Homo sapiens: one gene and its partners. The protein of the gene in region 3 interacts with the protein of the main gene of each other region in a pairwise test. Each region holds a gene or a part of one and is shown on either strand. Other genes may lie near its edges.

Evidence for each region.
Region 1: the proteins of KIFAP3 (region 3) and KIF3B interact in binary tests that used the Homo sapiens proteins (3 or more experiments, as listed by UniProt).
Region 2: the proteins of KIFAP3 (region 3) and KIF3A interact in binary tests that used the Homo sapiens proteins (3 or more experiments, as listed by UniProt).

The regions. Positions count from the first base shown.
Region 1 is NC_000020.11:32,275,905-32,279,655, reverse strand, and holds the start of KIF3B (kinesin-like protein KIF3B), read right to left. Parts: upstream 2,006-3,751; 5' UTR 1,891-2,005; intron 1,539-1,890; exon of another isoform or gene 1-1,538. UniProt on the Homo sapiens protein: Microtubule-based molecular motor that transport intracellular cargos, such as vesicles, organelles and protein complexes. Uses ATP hydrolysis to generate force to bind and move along the microtubule. Plays a role in cilia formation.
Region 2 is NC_000005.10:132,735,461-132,739,211, forward strand, and holds the start of KIF3A (kinesin-like protein KIF3A), read right to left. Parts: upstream 2,087-3,751; 5' UTR 1,960-2,086; coding exon 1,954-1,959; intron 1-1,953. UniProt on the Homo sapiens protein: Microtubule-based anterograde translocator for membranous organelles. Plus end-directed microtubule sliding activity in vitro. Plays a role in primary cilia formation. Plays a role in centriole cohesion and subdistal appendage organization and function.
Region 3 is NC_000001.11:170,033,065-170,036,815, forward strand, and holds part of KIFAP3 (kinesin-associated protein 3), read right to left. Parts: intron 2,490-3,751; coding exon 2,390-2,489; intron 1,433-2,389; coding exon 1,308-1,432; intron 1-1,307. UniProt on the Homo sapiens protein: Involved in tethering the chromosomes to the spindle pole and in chromosome movement. Binds to the tail domain of the KIF3A/KIF3B heterodimer to form a heterotrimeric KIF3 complex and may regulate the membrane binding of this complex.

The DNA of each region.
Region 1 (3,751 bases), on a different chromosome or scaffold from region 3:
CCATCTCTACTAAAAATACAAAATTAGCCGGGCATGGTGGCACATGCCTGTAATCCCAGCTACTTGGGAGGCTGAGGCAGGAGAACTGCTTGAACCAGGGAGGCGGAGGTTGCAGTGAGCTGAGATGGCACCATTGCACTCCAGCCTGGGCAACAACAGCAAAACTCCGTCTCAAAAAAAAAAAAAAAGATTCCAACTATTTTCTGAGATCCTCACTTTGGGTGGTATCTATTTAAATAAAGCTTTACCTGAGATCTTGTTTCCTTGCCTTTTAACTTCTAGCCAGTTAAAAGTAACAAAAGAATACCCCTGTGGCCTTATAATAGCAACTGTTGCAAAATCAGAGGCAACAGTGAATGGGGGATAAAATACAGGATTTACCTAGAAACACGTCCACTTCCATCACTTAATAGATACAAGATTCTTAGGCAATGACTGGGTGTGGTGGCTCACGCATGTAATCCTAGCACTTTGGGAGGCCGAGGCAGGTATATCACTTGAGGCCAGGAGTTCGAGACCAGCCAGGCCAACATGGTGAAACCTTGTCTCTACTAAAACTACAAAAATTAGTGGACGAGGTGGTGAACATCTGTAGTCCCAGCTACTCGGGAGGCTGAGGCAGGAGAATCGCTTGAACACACGAGGCGGAGGTTGCAGTGAGCTGAGATCGCGCCACTGCACTCCAGCCTGGGCAACAGACTAAGACTCTGTCTCAAAAAAAAAAAAAAAAAAAAGGATTCTTAAGCAGGTCCTTCCCTTTACTTTTCTGAACCTCAGTTTCCTCATCGGCAAAATGAGGATGACATCACCAGGCACCTGGCAAAGTCTACATAAAGATTAAATGAAATAATATGCCTGGTAAAGTGCTTCTTAATCATATGCTTGTAAATAGTTATTACTGCTTTAAGCACTTCCCAAAGGACACAAAGATGCCTTTTTTCTTCTGGAAGGGTCAACGAAGCCCAGGTAGAAAATGAGACCATGACCCCAGCTATCTACAAGGGGTTGACCTCAAAGAGTTTCCCAGGACTACTTGTAGAAGTACCTCCCTTGCTCTGAGCAGAATGGAGAAGTAAAACCGGGGTTGGGGGTTGGCATTGCAGTAGGACTACCCATATGAGCTGGCACTCTACACACCTACACCTTACCTGTCCCAAAGTCATCTCCTCCTGGAAGTCTTGCCCTCCTACCCTGGACGCCTCATAATAGCTGGTTGAGCACTTACTATGTGCCAAGCTACTTGACATACCCAGTCTCACTGATTTCCACAGTAGTCTATTACCTCATTTCACAGATAAGGAAAAGAAGACTCAGAGAAATTAACTTGCCCAGGGCCACACAGTTACTAAGTGGAAATGCCACGTCTCTAACTCGCTCAGACTTCAAACTGCCCTCTTGGTCTCCCATCTAGGGTGCCCTAAGAATTCTCCCTCTCCCCATTTAGGGCACTTTCACATACACTTCTCATTATCTTTACCACTCTGAGCAGCAATGTTAGGACCCCATTGAATAAACAGGTCAGCTAAGGCCAGGGAGGTGAAAAGACTTGCCCAAGGTCACACAGCAAGCCCAGCACAGCGCCGAGGTTCGGACCCCAGGCTCTCGCTTCCCCGCCCTCCTCCCAAACTGGGGCCCTGACCACCGCCTCAGGGCCCCCAGGTGGGCTGCGACCCAAGGTGGCCGTGTCTGGGGGTCGGGCCGCGACCCTGCCAGGGGAAGGAGGGGCAAGGCCGTCCGGACTACCAAAGGATGCCTAGGAGGCAGGGCAGAGGATGCTCCGGCTCGCGGGACAGCAAAGCCAGGCAGAGGCGCGGGCGCAGGTCGCAGGGAAAACCCCAGGCGGCCACAGGATTAGCCCTGCTCGGTGGGCGCCCGGCCCCTCCGACTCACCTGAGGCCCGAGCCGAAAGCGGGCGGCGGCGGCGGCGGCGGCGGCGGCGGCGGCGGCGGGGGCGGCGAACCCCTGGCTCAGCCATTCCCCGCTGCCCCGGATGGGGAGAGACAGTGGCCGCTCACTTCCTTAGCAACCTGGCTCGGCGACCCACTTCCTTAGCAACCGGTGTCAATTTCAATAACTTTATTGGCACACGAGCAGAGGACAGGGAAAGCCGGCTGGAGGGGTCTGGGCGGGGCTCAGGTCGGTGCTGGTGTTTAGCGGGGGCCCAACACACCTCGGTCTCCTCACCCACCTAAGCGGGGAGAGTGGCGCACAACGTGGCCTGACTCCATCCTCTGGTATCTCGTGCCTCAGTTTCCCATCTGTAAATGGAACACACGCGATTTCAGCCGCCGTTCAACCTTTCTAAAAGCTTTCACATCCATTATCTGACTGGTGTCTCAAACTGCTACTGAGGTAACTCCCATTTAGGGTGCCCCCAGTGACTCAATACGAACACCTATAGGCACCCTTGTTGTAGCTTTCCTGTCCTTCACCCAATCCAGTCAGTCACAACCGCCCCAGGCAAGGCCAGGCCACGCTCATCTCTAGCCTGCCTGAAATATCTGGTCTGTTTCCATTCTTTTGTCCAGCTCTGTCCGAACAATCCATTTTCCATAAGGTGGCCAGAGTAATTATTTAAAACAGATCATGCGGCCAGGTGCGGTGGCTCCCGCTGTAATCCCAGCACTTTGGGAGGCTGAGGCAGGTGAATCACCTGAGGTCAGGAGTTCGAGACCAGCTTGGCCAACATGGCGAAACCCCGTCTCTAATAAAAATACAAAAAATTAGCCGGGCGTGGTGGCGCATGCCTGTAGTCCCAGCTACTCGGGAGGCTGAGGCAGGAGAATCGCTTGAACCCGGGAGGCAGGGGTTGCAGTGAGAGAGATGGCACCACTGCACTCCAGCCTGGGCGACAACAGCGAAACTCCGTCTCAGATATAAAGATTAAAATAAATAAATAAATAAATAAATAAATAAAACAGATCATGCCACTTTCTGATTAATACTCGATTTAATGGAGTCTCATTGCTCTTAGAATCAAATATGAAGTCCTTATTACTTCCTGCAAAATTCGTTAAAACTCTATTCCAACCACACTGGCCTAGAAGGGCAGGTTCCAACCCCCATGGAACTTACACCTGCTGTTCCCCACTAAATAGAAACTGCATAAGAGCAGTCTTTTATTTGTTCACTCTTGTATCCACCATGCCTGGAACCAAGCTTAGTCAATAGTAGTTGCTGAACAAATATGTTTTGCTCCTTGAATAAATGAATACCTGAGATGGTCTTCTTCATCTGCCTACAACTACTTTTTGCCTGTTGTGGCAGATATTGCTACTTCCTCTCAAAAACGTTATTTCTTCCTGCTCCTGGACACACAACTAGACAGTATTTCCCAGCCTTCCTTACAGTTCAGACCAAGTTCTGGCCAATTAAATGTGATGTGTGCTATTCTCAGGCCTGGCCCATTAAAACTCCCACATAATTTGATTTACACTTTCTCTACAGTGAAGAAGTTTATTTTTAAATAAAATAATAAAGGAAATACCAAAAGAGACTGCACCCAGCCTCTTTTGGTATTTCCTGAAGCTAATAATTGCCTCATTTTTTCCCCCCTTTCATTAGCTTTCTTTGCAGATATTGTTAATTTTTTCCTATGTGGTTAATAAATTAGACAAAATAATCAGCAGTGATTTTTCCAGATGTGTAACATAACAATTCGGCTAGGCATGGTGGCTCATGCCCATAATCCCAGCACCTTGGGAGGCTGAGGCAGGCAGATCACCCTGAGGTCAGGAGTTCAAGACCAGCC
Region 2 (3,751 bases), on a different chromosome or scaffold from region 3:
TGTTAAATTCCTACTGTTTCAGATTCTCTTCTAAGCATTGAAGAGAAACAAATATGAGTCATTGTCATTGACTCTGACATTGTCACTGACAAGTAACAGATTATATCAGTACAATACACTTCTATCTATCTCTCATCCTATTCCTCTCATCTATTCATCACCCTAGTCTAAATCACCATCATCTTGGCCCTGGATTACTGCCTCCTAACTATACTCCTGAATCTAATCAGATTGCCCTACTGCCTATTCTCCAAATAGCAGTCAGTGTCAACACACATCTAATCATGTCACTCTCCTACTTAAAAATTCTTCAGTGGTTTCCCATAGATCTCAGAACAAAAACCAGAATCCTTAAGGTGGTCTGTAAGGTCTGGCTTCCACCCACGTCTGCTTCACTGGGCTTATTTCACAAGATATTCTGCCTGGCTCATCCATGCCACAGCCACACTGAGCTGCTTGGCCTTTTCTTGTCACCATGCTCCTCACCACTGGCCTTTCCATGTGCTGTTCCTTCTACCTAGAACCATCTTCAATCCCCTCTTCACTTAGTTAACATCTACTTATCCTTCAGAACTCAACAGCCACTTCACCTGGGAAGACTTCCTGACTAGGTCAAATACTCTTATAGGCTCAGAGAGCACCCTGCTCTCCCCTTCCTGGACACAAATTTTACTTTTGCTTGTTCCTTATTTGATTAATGTCTTTCTGTCTACACCAGAGGTTGCAAACAGGTAGTCAAGAGGCTGAATTCAGCCCACAAATTTCTTTTGTTTGGTTCATAGTATTTAAAGAGCTTTTGAATTAGTTGCTAAAATTGAGAAATTTCACAAAAATAATTTCTAAAGTCTCTTCTTGGGAGGAAAAAAAATGACCTGTTATCATCTGCAGACCATCATTCTTACATGGCAATACATTCCAATTCACCAGAATCTACTTCTCTCTATTGTAGGATACCCACCCACTTCATTATTAAGGTTTTGTGTCTTACGTCTGTAAATATGTATGATTTTCACCTCTGCCCAAGAAGGCAAGCCTCTCTCTTTCCAAGTTCAAGAACCTGACTGGTGTTGCTCAATGTTGTATCTTCAGGGCCTAGCATGTGGTTGGTGCCCAATATTTACTGAATTAAAACTTGAAAGCAGTGAACAGAACAAATATAGAGCATTTAATCTTAAATGTCAAGCACTGTCCTTCTAGTCTCCTGTGTATTATTTCACGCGGATAACAACCCCATGAGGTAAAGTTTACATGGGAACTAAGGACCCAGACAGATTAAATAATTATCCGAGGCCTCACAACCACTAAATAAGCGGCCATGGCTCAATTTTCCTCCATGACCCCTAATAAGGGGTCTTAGAAGGCCCCATTATTAAGTTCACGATAACAATCTGTGAAATCCTGGAAGATAAACATAACACCGCCACACACACAAAGACACCTACGGGTTTCATTCTGCATCATAAGCTAAAGCGCCACAAGAGCAATGACAGCTCAAGGCTAGGAGACTCGGAGTATGGGGCCTGGAATAGGGGCAGGCAGCCTTCGCTCCGCTGCCTCCCTGCGCTTGCTCCGAGGCGCAAAGGCCTCACCAGGTGTGCAGCATCCAAAGAGCCCCACCGTGGCCACCCCCAGACGCCCCGCTCAGCAGGAAGGGCTGCGAGCCAGAGCGCATCCTCCAGCACAGCGCCTTTTTGATAAGCGGCGCAGGCCCCACGGGATGCAGCAGCGACGAGGGCGGCAGGGCCTGACCCCAGGTCCCTGTCGAGGCCGGCCGGACCCCCGCGGCCCCGGGGCTGACCAGCCAGGCTCTCCAACCACCTCCACCGCACGACCGAGCCTGCCCCGCCCCACCCAGGCCGCCTGCCGGCTCCGCGCCTCCATGGCAACGGCCGCGCCCCCGGGCCAGGCCGCTAGGATGAGAAGAAACCCCAGAAGCGAAGCGACTCTCCTCACCGGCATCTTGGCCCCCTCCCGTGCCCGGCGGACGTCCCCGCCCGGGGTGCAGCCCAGCGACACCGGGTGCGCAGAAAGGATGGCCAGAGACTACCGAAACACCTCGTTGACGCTCTCGAGACTGCGGCTTCTCGGGCGAGAGCGCCCAGTGCGCAGCCGCATTCCGAGCTCGCCCCGCCCCAAGCCCAGTCTCAGGCTCTCTCGGCCCTTGAATTACGCCTGCGCGGAGGCTTTCCGAGTCCATCTCCTAGGACGCCAGACTGAGGCCGCGCGTGCGCAATGCTGCCATTCTGCTGCGCTAGAAATGTGGCACGCACTGAGGCGGAGGTAACCTGGCAGCCCGGGGTTGGGAGGAGGAGCTGCTCTTAGGCCCGTCTTCTGGCCCTTGCAATACCCGGAATATTAAAATCAGTAATAGCAATTGTACATTTTGTCTCATCCGAAGAATTGAAGACCTTACCTACCTGACCTCGCTTGATTGCTAACTTCCTCATGACCTGTCTTACCATTAGAAAGTGAGCTCTCTTAAGGAGATTGTTAGTATTCTCACATCTATCTCCAGAGCCCACACAGAGCCTGGCACAGAGTGGGATTTTTATACGTGTTGGTCAAAGAACCAGTGATCCGTCCATCCTCTTTCTAGTCCACTTGAATGTGTAATGGGCATTTCAAGTTAATCATGTCCAGAATTGAAATCTTGATCCCCCATCAATCGCCCCACTACCCACTCCACCCCCATCAAAAAATTTAAAAGGGCTCTCTCTCATCCCTCTCAGACTTTCTTCATCTCAATATGTGGGAGCTTAATTCCGACAACTGCTCAGGTCAAAATTGCAGTCTCTTTCATACACAATATTCTATCTTTAAATACAGCCTGTTGTATCTATCTTTGTAGTGGAACCAGAATTTGGCCACTTCTACCACCACCATCGTCTCTCACGTGCATTACTACAATCGCTCAGAACTGGTTTCCTTGATTGTGTGTCCTTGTCCCTTTTCAGTGTGCTGGACAGGAGCCAGAGTGCTGGTGCTAAAACATGAATCAGATCTTCTCTTTTCTCTGCTCAAAACCCTCCATTGATTTCCCATCTTACAAAGCTAAAGCCACAAGCCCTACAATCCTCCCTCTTGCTTCTTCTGCACCAGCCCCACCTGGCCTCCTTGCTTCATCCAACATTCCCGTCGTGCTTCCATCTTAGCATGCAAGGGCTGTGAGCTTGCAGTAGGAACTGATAGAAATAAAGATAAAGCATTTTACATAGTGCCAGTGTACTGTTCTACATGCTTTCGTTTTTTAATTCATTTAATCCACACAATAACCTTTTGAAATAGATACTATTTATTATTATTTTACAGATAAAGTAATTGAGGCACAGGACCATTAAATAACTTTTCCAAGGTCATACATATAAACAATGGCAGAGCCCAGGTCCAAACCCAGGCAGCCTAGACAGCTCTTTCCCTAAAAAACCACCTGACCACTCACCTCCTCCAGAAAGTCTTTGTTCACATAACCCCAGTGAACCCTAACATGATTTCCTTATTTAAAATTTCAACCTTCAGCCCAAACTCTTCTTTTTTTCCCTCCCCACTTTATATTTCTCCATAGTACCTATCACCATTCAATATTTTATATATACACACATACAAGCTTTACTGAGATATAATTTACACACCATACCATACAATCACCGATTTAAATTGTACAAGTCAATAGTTCTTACTATATATGGAGTTGTGCAACCATAACCTAGAACATTTTTATCATTCCAAAAAGACATTCTGTACTCATAAGCCA
Region 3 (3,751 bases):
GTCTTGTGACTCCAGAACTGATGTAAAGTCTCTAGGATTCTTGGGTTGTTGATGTAGTTGAGTCACTATCAATCTAGATGCCAGAAGTTTATGGTATGCATAGAAAATTTATAAACCTGAAAAGATTCTAATTAAGAAAAGTCAAAGCTTGTGTGTGGGTGTGGATTTTATAGTGTCTTGGAGTTCCATGTGACAACAGTAAAAGCCTGAGAGATTTTGTACACAATAACCTGAATTAACCTGTTACAACATAGATTAAATTGAAGCCTCAGGGTTTCCAGAGGCCAAAATTAATATAAAAGTAAGGTCCACTTTTGCACAAAGCAGAGTTAAAAATGTATGATATTCTGCAAAATAGGAATAAAGTTTTCACTTTTTAAAAGACATAATAAACACTTGATTCAAAGGAAAGTTACCAGCATGCCTAGTTGATCTGCAAAACATATCATGGTTGAACAGATATGAATAAACCAGGGGCCTTTGATCTAGAAGCATTGAGTTTAGAGGCTAAAATATGATAAATATCTTCAAATATGAGAAGAATTATGATGTTGAAGAGAATAGCCTTATTCCATATTGCTTTAGTATACAATACTAGAACCAATGGATAGAAGTTATTGGGGAATGGACTTCAGTGCACTAAGCAAAAGACTATTATAATAAACAGAATGCTAAACCACAGAATGGGTGAAATAAATAAACACTGACATTGTTAAAGAGGAGCCTATGTAATAGCATTTGCCAGGGAAGTTGCAGAAATATTTTTATATTTGTAAGATAGGTTAAAACAGATACCTAAGTTTCCTTTCACAGGTTCTATTATTCTATAGGCCTTTCAAATTTTTATTTATTAACAACAGTATTTTTGCACTTTCCTAGAAAAATAGAACCTTTAACTAGGTTCATCACCAAATTTACACCCATTCTAATCAAAGTCACCTTAGTACTCACACAGAAGTATATAAGCAGCAGTGGTGGGCCAGGCTTCAACTAACCAAAGGATCTTAGTGGATGTAATGATGTAACCACTTAGAGGCTCACCTACTAAGTTACCCGACACAACTATTACCTGCTCCTTCTACCTCATTAACTAATAAAGGTTGTGAAGAGACAAAAAGTGAATATCAAACTGTATTCATTTTGATAGTTTCAATCTACTTCTTAACCTTCAATAACACACTCCTGCATTGTTTCCAAGTAATGTAATTAACAATTTTTAAAAAAGAAAAAAGAACAAAACCATCCCACCCATCCAAAACTTAAAGCAAAAGACAACAGACGGTTCAAATGCCACTCTAAAAGGATATCAGCTTTCTTCTTCTTTGAGAGTTCTTCTTGCCAAAGCTCATGTCTTTTTAACTCATGATCAATAATATTCATACACAGAGCTCCAATTTTATAGTGAGTAATAAGTCCATGAAATTGAGAAAAGCTTTAAAGAAGACATTTTAATATATATTTAAAAGAATACATTTTATGGGTACAGGAAATTTGTTTTTGGTGATCACTGGTACGAACCATGTAGAAAATAAATTTGATATACATATTTTAATAAATGAATATATCCACAATACACTAGGAAGACTTGCGATTATAAAATTACTTTAAATATATCACACTACTCTTACCTAAAATAGTTATTTTTAAGAAGTTAGAAAGTAGACATTTTTTGTAACTAACCACCATATTAACTACTCAGATATTCAGAATAGATTTTTAGATTATTGTCTAACAAAACTAATAATGTAGCAATACTAGACATACATTTTATTTATTGTATAAAACTGACATCAGAGAATTCGTAAAGTACTAGTAATCAGGTTTTACATATGTTTTCTAGACAATACATTAATCCAAGTATTTATTCAATAAATATTTATTTGCTAATACTAGCACATTTTTAGAACAGAAGCAGCAATTATCTAGGAATTGGGTAGAAACTTTTCATAATGTCTTAATAAGTATCTTCTTTCTTAAGGATATATGTGTATAAATAATAAATACAATACATAACAGGTATGTGTTTGTACATACATGCATATATATAACAATAACATTTACTGAGCACTTACTCTGGGTCAGGCTTTATTCTAAGTATTTTAATTTTTAATTCATTTAATCCAAAAAACTATCCAAAGAGGGTGCCACTATTACTATCCAAATTTTACTCATAAGGAAACTGAGGCATGAGTGGGTATAGACTAAATGAAAGATAGAATAACAGATAGCAAGACAGACAATGGAAAACAGGAATAAGAATTCAGCAGTAGAGCATAGGCAGACACACAGAAAAACTGAGAGAACAAGTGATCTACAAATTGAATCAATGACACAGACAAAGAGCAATAGAGATACAGTAGCCTTTTTATTTAATAATTTTTATACTTACCTGGAGAAACAAAAAAAGATGTAAATTATGTTTGTAGCTAACTCGACACTTTGCTTCCAGTCTTCTCTCAGGACCCTTGCTAATGCACCAAGGGCAGTTTCTAAAGAAAAAGGAGAGGTACCGAAACGATCATTCTCCTTGCTCTGGTATAAAGGGTGATTGGTTTTAAATGTCTAGTTATTAATGAATAATAAAGCTAAGATAGAACTGGGACAAAAAGTAGGATGCTTCTTTCCAATACAGACAGCTACTTTTAAAACTAAAATGTAATTTTACTTAAAGATACGTAACATGCTGCTTCAAGTATATACTATACACAGAAGTAATCAAATATGATTTAGATAAAGTGACATATGTTATGGTGACAATAAAATAATTAAAAAGCCTTTCATTTCTTAATTTAATAACCTTAAATTAAGAACTGTAATCTTCCTACTTCAGTACTGATTTTTTTCTTTTTAACATCTGATTTAATGTATTTGATAATATGAAAAAAACTTGAATAAGTCTAGAAAAAAATGAGCAGGTTAGTAGACTAACACTCGTTCCATTAAAGCAAATTAAAAACCAAATAAAATCTATACACAGAAAAATAAATTTAATATTTCAGTATCACACTGAATTTATGCTAGTAGCCACAAATAAAACAAAAAGCTTTCACAAAATTAACTTTCAGGTAGGTTAATAAGCATTTCTGCTAAAATTTTCTCTTGAGGAAATGAAAATTATAAAGTAATGACACTAGTTTCAAATCAGGTTGGTACATGGCATACTAATTCTTAAAATAATTAAAATATCTGTATGTTAAAATATAGAAATCATAATTCCACTGTTCTTAATAGATACTCAGGATTTACAATAGTACTTTATGGACTGCATTATGAGTATTTATTATGGTAATGAAAATGTCCCATATTTGAGCTTTCTGGCTATTCAGACTATGAACAAAAATTGATTGTATTAGTTATGAATCCACGTAGTGACAAATTTTTTAGCAAATTAAAAATCATCCTATGATAGCATTTCACAGTATTATTCACATTCACAATGCAGAGAACTTGAATAGTACATGCTTTGAAAAAAATTATTTTGGAGTCACATAAATAGGTTGACAATGCATATTAACAGCAAAGCCTCCAAAAAGTCCTATTTAATAAATAATCTGGTGTAGCTTTGTTCAATCTAGTAATTCCCAAAGGTATTTGACCATTATAATCCAGATAAAATAGTATTTCTTTAAATACTAGCCTATACAGAACTGTTCTATAATGTCATAAATTTAGGCATAGGTTTAGTGGCCTATTTGCAAAATTTTATTTCATTTTTCTCCTTAAAACAGAATAGAGAAACATCTCAATTAAA